2 separate regions of the Homo sapiens genome follow, and region 1 is linked to region 2. The links come from fine-mapping of genetic effects on gene expression. A gene starts in region 2. The other region holds a variant in brackets. All regions are shown on one strand. Distances are between the middles of the regions.

The links. PIP is the estimated chance that this variant, and not a neighbour inherited with it, causes the effect. A credible set is the group of variants that fine-mapping cannot tell apart.
Region 1: its variant is the best candidate, but not a certain one, in a credible set for the expression of NTHL1 in whole blood (INTERVAL, PIP 0.61).

Annotation. Positions count from the first base shown.
Region 1 is chr16:2,095,754-2,100,086 of GRCh38, reverse strand. It overlaps PKD1 (polycystin 1, transient receptor potential channel interacting), which reads left to right. Exons shown (of 46, transcript NM_001009944.3): 29 at 16-226; 30 at 317-443; 31 at 2,103-2,219; 32 at 2,307-2,359; 33 at 2,584-2,768; 34 at 2,846-2,939. Among named protein-coding and RNA genes, the nearest start is that of PKD1-AS1, 6.5 kb to the right of the region's middle. The variant A/G (reference allele first, on the strand shown) is at 1,551.
Region 2 is chr16:2,045,210-2,049,569 of GRCh38, reverse strand. It overlaps NTHL1 (nth like DNA glycosylase 1), which reads left to right and starts at 1,736. Exons shown (of 6, transcript NM_002528.7): 1 at 1,736-1,861; 2 at 3,204-3,442. The coding sequence starts at 1,747. It overlaps TSC2 (TSC complex subunit 2), which reads right to left and starts at 1,585. Exons shown (of 42, transcript NM_000548.5): 1 at 1,505-1,585; 2 at 817-983. The coding sequence starts at 954. RefSeq lists a silencer at 1,322-1,551 and enhancers at 1,642-1,731, 2,182-2,241, 1,833-2,332.

The DNA of each region.
Region 1 (4,333 bases), 51 kb before region 2:
CTCCCTGCCTTCTAGGCGACGCAGCCCTTTTGCGCTTCCGGCGCCTGCTGGTGGCTGAGCTGCAGCGTGGCTTCTTTGACAAGCACATCTGGCTCTCCATATGGGACCGGCCGCCTCGTAGCCGTTTCACTCGCATCCAGAGGGCCACCTGCTGCGTTCTCCTCATCTGCCTCTTCCTGGGCGCCAACGCCGTGTGGTACGGGGCTGTTGGCGACTCTGCCTACAGGTGGGTGCCGTAGGGGTCGGGGCAGCCTCTTCCTGCCCAGCCCTTCCTGCCCCTCAGCCTCACCTGTGTGGCCTCCTCTCCTCCACACAGCACGGGGCATGTGTCCAGGCTGAGCCCGCTGAGCGTCGACACAGTCGCTGTTGGCCTGGTGTCCAGCGTGGTTGTCTATCCCGTCTACCTGGCCATCCTTTTTCTCTTCCGGATGTCCCGGAGCAAGGTGGGCTGGGGCTGGGGACCCGGGAGTACTGGGAATGGAGCCTGGGCCTCGGCACCATGCCTAGGGCCGCCACTTTCCAGTGCTGCAGCCAGAGGGAAAGGCGTCCACCAAAGGCTGCTCGGGAAGGGTCAACACACTTGAGCAGCCTTAGCTAGACTGACCAGGGAGAAAGAGAGAAGACTCAGAAGCCAGAATGGTGAAAGAACGAGGGCACTTTGCTAAGCAGACGCCACGGACGACTGCACAGCAGCACGCCAGATAACTCAGAAGAAGCAAGCACGCGGCTGTGCACGCTTCCGAAATGCACTCCAGAAGAAAATCTCAGTACATCTATAGGAAGTGAAGAGGCTGAGTTAGTCCCTTAGAAACGTCCCAGTGGCCGGGCCGGGTGTGGTGGCTCACGCCTGTAATCCCAACACTTCAGGTGGCCGAGGTGGGCGGATCTGAGTCCAGGAGTTTGAGACCAGCCTGGGCAACATAGCAAGACCCCATCTATATAAAACATTAAAAAGGGCCAGGCGCGGTGGCTCACGCCTGTAATCCCAGCACTTTGGGAGGCCGAGGCGGGCAGATCACTTGAGGTCAGGAGTTCGAGACCAGCCTGGCCAACACAATGAAACCCCGACTCTACTACAAATACAAAAACTTAGCTGGGCATGGTGGCGGGCGCCTGTAGTCCCAGCTACTCGAGAGGCTGAGGCAGGAGAATGGCATGAACCCAGGAGGCGGAGCTTGCAGTGAGCCGAGATTGCGCCACTGCACTCCATCCTGGGCAACGGAGCAAGACTCCATCTCCAAAAAAAAAAAAAAAAAATCCCACAAAGAAAAGCTCAGGCTCAGAGCCTTCACGATAGAATTTTTCTAAGCAGTTAAGGAAGAATTAACACCAATCCTTCACAGACTCTTTCCAAGAATACAGCAGGTGGGAACGCTTCCCATTCATACGGAAACGGGAGGCCGCACCCCTTAGGAATGCACACGTGGGGTCCTCAAGAGGTTACATGCAAACTAACCCCAGCAGCACACAGAGAAGGCGCATAAGCCGCGACCAGGAGGGGTTGCTCCCGAGTCCGTGGCAGGAACCAGAGGCCACATGTGGCTGCTCGT[A/G]TTTAAGTTAATTAAAATGGAACGATGGCCGGGTGTGGTGGCTCACACCTGTAATCCCAGCACTTTGGGAGGCGGAGGCGGGCAGATCACTTGAGGTCAGGAGTTCCAAGACCAGCCTGGCCAACACAGTGAAACCCCGTCTCTACTAAAAATACAAAAAATTAGCTGGGCATGGTGGCAGGCACCTGTAATCCCAGCTACTCAGGAGGCTGAGCCAGGACAATCGCCTGAACGCGGGAGGTGGAGGTTGCAGTGAGCTGAGATTGCGCCATTGCACTCCAGCCTGGGTGACAGCGAGACTCCATCTAAAAAAGAAAATATGAAATTTAAAACTCTGTTCCTTAGCTGCACCAGTCTGCTGTCAAGTGTTCAGTGGCACACGTCGCGAGGGGCTGCCATCACGGACGGTGCAGATGTCCCATATATCCAGCATTCTAGGACATTCTGTCAGATGGCACCGGGCTCTGTCCTGTCTGCTGAGGAGGTGGCTTCTCATCCCTGTCCTGAGCAGGTCTGAGCTGCCGCCCGCTGACCACTGCCCTCGTCCTGCAGGTGGCTGGGAGCCCGAGCCCCACACCTGCCGGGCAGCAGGTGCTGGACATCGACAGCTGCCTGGACTCGTCCGTGCTGGACAGCTCCTTCCTCACGTTCTCAGGCCTCCACGCTGAGGTGAGGACTCTACTGGGGGTCCTGGGCTGGGCTGGGGGTCCTGCCGCCTTGGCGCAGCTTGGACTCAAGACACTGTGCACCTCTCAGCAGGCCTTTGTTGGACAGATGAAGAGTGACTTGTTTCTGGATGATTCTAAGAGGTGGGTTCCCTAGAGAAACCTCGAGCCCTGGTGCAGGTCACTGTGTCTGGGGTGCCGGGGGTGTGCGGGCTGCGTGTCCTTGCTGGGTGTCTGTGGCTCCATGTGGTCACACCACCCGGGAGCAGGTTTGCTCGGAAGCCCAGGGTGTCCGTGCGTGACTGGACGGGGGTGGGCTGTGTGTGTGACACATCCCCTGGTACCTTGCTGACCCGCGCCACCTGCAGTCTGGTGTGCTGGCCCTCCGGCGAGGGAACGCTCAGTTGGCCGGACCTGCTCAGTGACCCGTCCATTGTGGGTAGCAATCTGCGGCAGCTGGCACGGGGCCAGGCGGGCCATGGGCTGGGCCCAGAGGAGGACGGCTTCTCCCTGGCCAGCCCCTACTCGCCTGCCAAATCCTTCTCAGCATCAGGTGAGCTGGGGTGAGAGGAGGGGGCTCTGAAGCTCACCCTTGCAGCTGGGCCCACCCTATGCCTCCTGTACCTCTAGATGAAGACCTGATCCAGCAGGTCCTTGCCGAGGGGGTCAGCAGCCCAGCCCCTACCCAAGACACCCACATGGAAACGGACCTGCTCAGCAGCCTGTGAGTGTCCGGCTCTCGGGGGAGGGGGGATTGCCAGAGGAGGGGCCGGGACTCAGGCCAGGCAGCCGTGGTTCCCGCCTGGGGTAGGGTGGGGTGGGGTGCCAGGGCAGGGCTGTGGCTGCACCACTTCACTTCTCTGAACCTCTGTTGTCTGTGGAAAGAGCCTCATGGGATCCCCAGGGCCCCAGAACCTTCCCTCTAGGGAGGGAGCAGGCTCATGGGGCTTTGTAGGAGCAGAAAGGCTCCTGTGTGAGGCTGGCCGGGGCCACGTTTTTATCTTGGTCTCAGAGCAGTGAGAAATTATGGGCGGGTTTTTAAATACCCCATTTTTGGCCGGGCGCGGTGGCTCACACGTGTAATCCCAGCACTTTGGGAGGCCGAGGTGGGCAGATGACCTGAGGTCAGCAGTTCGAGACCAGCCTGGCCAACATGGCGAAACCCCGTCTCTACTAAAAATACAAAAAATTAGCCGGGCATGCTGGCAGGCGCCTGTAGTCCCAGTTACTCGGGAGACTGAGGTAGGAGAATCGATTGAACCTGGTAGGTGAAGGTTGTAGTGAGCCGAGATCGCGCCACTGCACTCCAGCCTGGGCAACAAGAGCGAAACTCCGTCTCAAAAACAAAAAAATTCCTCAATTTCTTGGTTGTTTTGTAACTTATCAACAAATGGTCATATAGAGGTTACCTTGTATGTAGTCACGCACATAGTCACGCACATGGCAGCCGGCGGCGGAGCGCACCCACGGCGTGTTCCCACGCGTGTGACCCCGGGCTCTGCCATGCCCTCCTATGCTCAGGTGTGCTGAGGTCCACACGGCCCTGCCGTTGCACTGCAGCTGCCTGCAGGATTCAGTGCAGTGGCATGCAGTGCAGGTGCGGTGCCCCGGAGCCACAGGCCACACCACAGGGCCTGCATGCACAGGGGCTGCGGTGTCTGGGTTTGGGTAACTACGCCCTGTGACATTTGCACAGCAACAGAATTACCTAATGACGCATTTCTCAGAACACATCCCTGGCACTAAGTGGTGCGTGACTGCTGCTTTTGCATCCACATCTAGTTTGATTTGTGTGTTATTCCTTTGAGTGCTTCTCATTGTTAAGCAACCAAGAACTAAAGAGGTATGAACTGCCCCTGGACTCAAACAAAAAGGAAAACTTCCTGATTTACAAAAGGCAGATAACCATCACATGAGGGCATCTTTATGAATAAATTGCTGGTTGGTTTTAAAAATACAGAGTATGGGGAAATCCAGGGGTAGTCACTACATGCTGACCAGCCCCAGGTATCTCCGGCCCAAAGCTCTGTGAAATCCAGATTCAGTGCTTCCGCGGGGATTTCTGACGGCAGCTCAGACTCCGCATCCACACAGAGCGCGTGGCCCTCACCCTCCCGG
Region 2 (4,360 bases):
GACAGGCGTGAGCCACCGCACCCAGCCAGGATGGACTATATTTTATTCATCAGTTGATGAACGTTTTAGTTGTTTCTAAGTAGAAAACTTTACAAGTGCAAAAATTCAGCATTTACTCATGGGCAAAACACAATGCCAGGCATGTGTGACAAAGACACAAACACACATAAAAGATAACGACCTAGCCCATGTGCGATGGCTCATGCCTGTAATCCCAGCACTTTGGGAGGCCAAAGCGGGCAGATCACCTGAGGTCAGCAGTTCAAGACCAGCCTGGCCAAGATAGTGAAACTCCATCTCTACTAAAAATACAAAAATTAAATGGGTGTGGTGGCACGTGTCTGTAGTCCCAGCTACTCAGGAGGCTGAGGCAGGAGAACCACTTGAAACTGGGAGGCAGAGGTAGCAGCGAGCAGAGATTGTGCCACTGCACTCCAGCCTAGGCAACAGAGCAAGACTCAGTCTCAAAAAAAAAATAAAATAAAGAACCTACTTCTCCCAGGAACTCACATCTTATCATGTAACACCTGGACATATCCTTACCTGTGAAGATGATGATACTCAGGCCTCATCTATAAGATGGGCTTTCTTTCATCAACATCTGAATAGTAACTCAAGTGTGCCTGAACCAGGTCACCAAGATCCTGACTTTCGAAGTCTCCTGAGGAAGGACATGTCGGCCTCCAAGTACTGGAGACAGCATTCCTGTGTAGACAGTTGCCAGCAACCCGTCTCCCACAGAACCTGGTGCAAGACCAAACCCAGCCTTCTCTGCATTTCCCTCTAGCCTAGCAAAGACACAGGTAGCTCACTCACTCTCAGTATTTCCGCGGTGATGATAAACTCCGTCTGTTTACCCTCTGCAGACCTGGGATTTGGCCTCGGTGTTCCCAGTCCCAACAGAATCTTAAACTTCTCCTTCAAGCCTGAATCTTTGCTTGTTGGTTTGGCCATGGTGGACCAGGACGCACCAGAAAACCCCTCTGTGCAAACGAAACAGGAATGGGGACATCTGAGCAACACCTCTGCCCACCTTCCCCACTGCGGACCTCCAGCCGTCAGGACCCTGGGTCTCTGGTGGGCATAACCTTTCCTCCCACACTCCCTGGGAGAACTCAACTACAGCCCAGCTGACCAGCTCGCAAACAGGCACCTAGGAAAGCCCGGGAGACACCAGGCCTGGTCTAGAGAGCTCTCTACTCAGACGCTGCCGCCCGCCCCGCCCGACTCAGTGCACGGGTTAGGACTGCCGCCGCGAAGTCCTGGGAGCCCCGACGTTTGCCGTCTCTCCTCTACCCATGTGAAGCAGGAGCTGTCACGGAGCCGCCTGCAGCAGAGACCCGTTCGCACCCGCCATGACTTAAAACTAAGGGATGCTCGGAGCTCCGGAGTCGGGTTGCAGTGGGCGCGGGTGAGGGCCCGGGACCCGGACACTGCGGGGTCCGCCTCTCTAGGCCGCTGCCCCGTGGGGACCGCCACTTGCCCCGTGGGGACCGCCACTTACCCCGCGCCGCGCCACCGCGCTCCGGGCCGCCCCGACGCGGAGAAAGGCGCACCCCCCTGGCCCCGGGACGCCGCCGGAAGCGCGACCCGCACTTCCGGTAGCGGCATTGCGCGGAGGGCCGCCTTGGGAGCTTGCTGGGAGTTGTAGTTCTGTGCCGCCCTCTGGCGGAAAGGCCGGCGATCCTTGCATCACGTGACGGGGCCGCATGGGCCGCCGGGATGTGTAGTCCGCAGGAGTCCGGCATGACCGCCTTGAGCGCGAGGATGCTGACCCGGAGCCGGAGCCTGGGACCCGGGGCTGGGCCGCGGGGGTGTAGGGAGGAGCCCGGGCCTCTCCGGAGAAGAGAGGCTGCAGCAGGTAGCGCCGCGCCGTGGCTGGAGCGTGGGAGGAGGCGGGATAGGGGCTGCAGGCTGGAGTCCCGGGCCGCCTCCTGCGGCTCCCAGCTGCGCGGGCAGGGGCTGCAAACCCGGCAGCCGCGAACGGTTCCCACGTGCGGCCCTGCGTTCCCACCTTGCGCCTTTTTCCCAAAGATTGCGGTCCGCAGGGGCTGGGTTTCGGGCGCTCCGCTCCGCTGCCCCCTTTCGCCCCAAGCAAGAAAACGCTTCCTTTCCCACCACTCTGTCCGGGACTCTCCACTCCAGGCTCTGTGGGTCCCATCCCCGCCCTCCTGCAGTGAACTTGCTGTCCTCGGAGAGGCTGGGTGCCAAGGACACACGCAGCCAGAAGCCTGCTCCCCCAGCTCGGGGGAGGGTGCCTCTGAGGGAAAACAGGAAAGGGCATGGCACTTATTATATTTATCCTGCAGCCGTTGAGGACCTGCTGGGGGCCAAGCACTGCAGTGAGCAGTGAGGGACACGGACAGGGCCTCTGCGCTAGTCCCGCTGGGACTTCTGCAGAATTGGCCAGAGCTGGATTCCCATAGGCACCCAGGGACCCCAGGGGTAGTCCAGACTATGTCAGGAGGAACTGGTGCAGCTGGGAGCAGGCAGGTGGTGATGCCAGCCAGGGTGGCAGGAGCTTTGATGCCAGGATAGAGTTTGGAGTTTATTATGACAGTAAACGGAAGTCAATTAGGAGGTTTTGTTGTTTGTTTTGAGATCGGGTCTTGCTCTGTCACCCAGGCTGTAGTGGAGTGTTGTGATCTCAGCTCACTGCAACCTCCGCCCCCCAGGTTCAAGCAGTTCTCCTGCCTCAGCCTCCCAAGTAGCTGAGACTATAGGCCCCTGCCACCACACCCGGCTAACTTTTGTATTTTTAGTAGAGATGGGGTTTTGCCATATTGGCCAGGCTGGTCTTGAACTCCTGACCTCAAGTGATCCACCCACCTCGGCCTCCCAAAGTGCTGGGATTACAGGCTTGATCCACCGCGCCCGGCCGGCCAGGATTTTTTAAAAGGGAGTGACACAACCTGATGTGGGTGTTAGCAGACTGTCTCTGGTGCAGTATAGAAGATGTATTGGGGGCACCTTGGTACAGGCTGTTGCTAGAGTCCTCATGAGCTAACATGGACCTTGTCAGGGTCGCTGGCATAAGGAGGGCCCACATACCCCAGACTGCAGAGGGCAGAGCACCCCAAGTGTATTAGATGATGGACAGTTGTGGCATGAACGAGTGAGGGGTGAGCTAGCAGGCGGGATGGCACCCCTACCCTACCTTCACCTGTGGCCCCACCAGAGGGACTGCGTGGTGCTTTTTGCAGAAGCGAGGAAAAGCCACAGCCCCGTGAAGCGTCCGCGGAAAGCACAGAGACTGCGTGTGGCCTATGAGGGCTCGGACAGTGAGAAAGGTGAGGGGGCTGAGCCCCTCAAGGTGCCAGTCTGGGAGCCCCAGGACTGGCAGCAACAGCTGGTCAACATCCGTGCCATGAGGAACAAAAAGGATGCACCTGTGGACCATCTGGGGACTGAGCACTGCTATGACTCCAGTGCCCCCCCAAAGGTAGGCAGGGGCCCCATCTGCCCAGATGACCCCCCATCTTAGCAAGGTCCTTGTTTTCTTTCTACCCGGTGGCTTTTGGCTGGCACCCTCCCCTGCAGACAGCACCTTGGGAGGATGGACACCCGGTGCCCCAGAGCATCGCCTGCATCACTGTAGCCACTCAGCAGGTCAGGACACCAGTGGTTTAGGGCCTCGTGCTCGAACTTCTGCCCAGTGCAGGCGTGACCTGGGCTTTGTGTGATATCAGGAAGGAAGAGTTCCTTTTGCTTCACGGTCCCAGGGCCTGAAACCCTTAGACCAAGCTGAGTTCTAATCCCTATTCTGCTACCAGGTGGCTTGGATACAGGCCTCTCTGAGCCTCAGTTTGCTTGTCTGTAAAATGGGTAGTATGGGCCAGGCATGGTGGTTCAGGCCTGTAATCCCAGCACTTCGGGAGGCCAAGGCGGGTGGATCACCTGAGGTCAGGAGTTCGAGACCAGCCTGGCCAATGTGGCGAAACCACGTCTCTACTAAAAATACAAAAATTAGCCAGGTGTGGTGGCAGGCACCTGTAACCCCAGCTACTTAGGAGGGCGAGGCAGGAAAATCGCTTGAACCCCGGAGGCGGAGGTTGCAGTGAGCCAAGATGGCACCACCACACTTCAGCCTGGGTGAAAGAGTGATACTGCATCTCAAAAAAAAAAATTTGTTTTAAAGGGTAGTGTGATGATTCACGAAGCAATCATAATAGTAGTGGCCAATGGCTGTTCAGTAGTGATGGGCCAGATACGATCGTGTTGGGTTTTTTTTTGAGACCAAGTCTTGCTCTTGTTGCCCAGGCTGGAGTGCAGTGGTGAAATCTTAGCTCACTGCAACCTTCGCCTCCGAGGTTCAAATTATTCTCCTGCCTCGGCCTCCCGAGTAGCTGGGATTACAGGC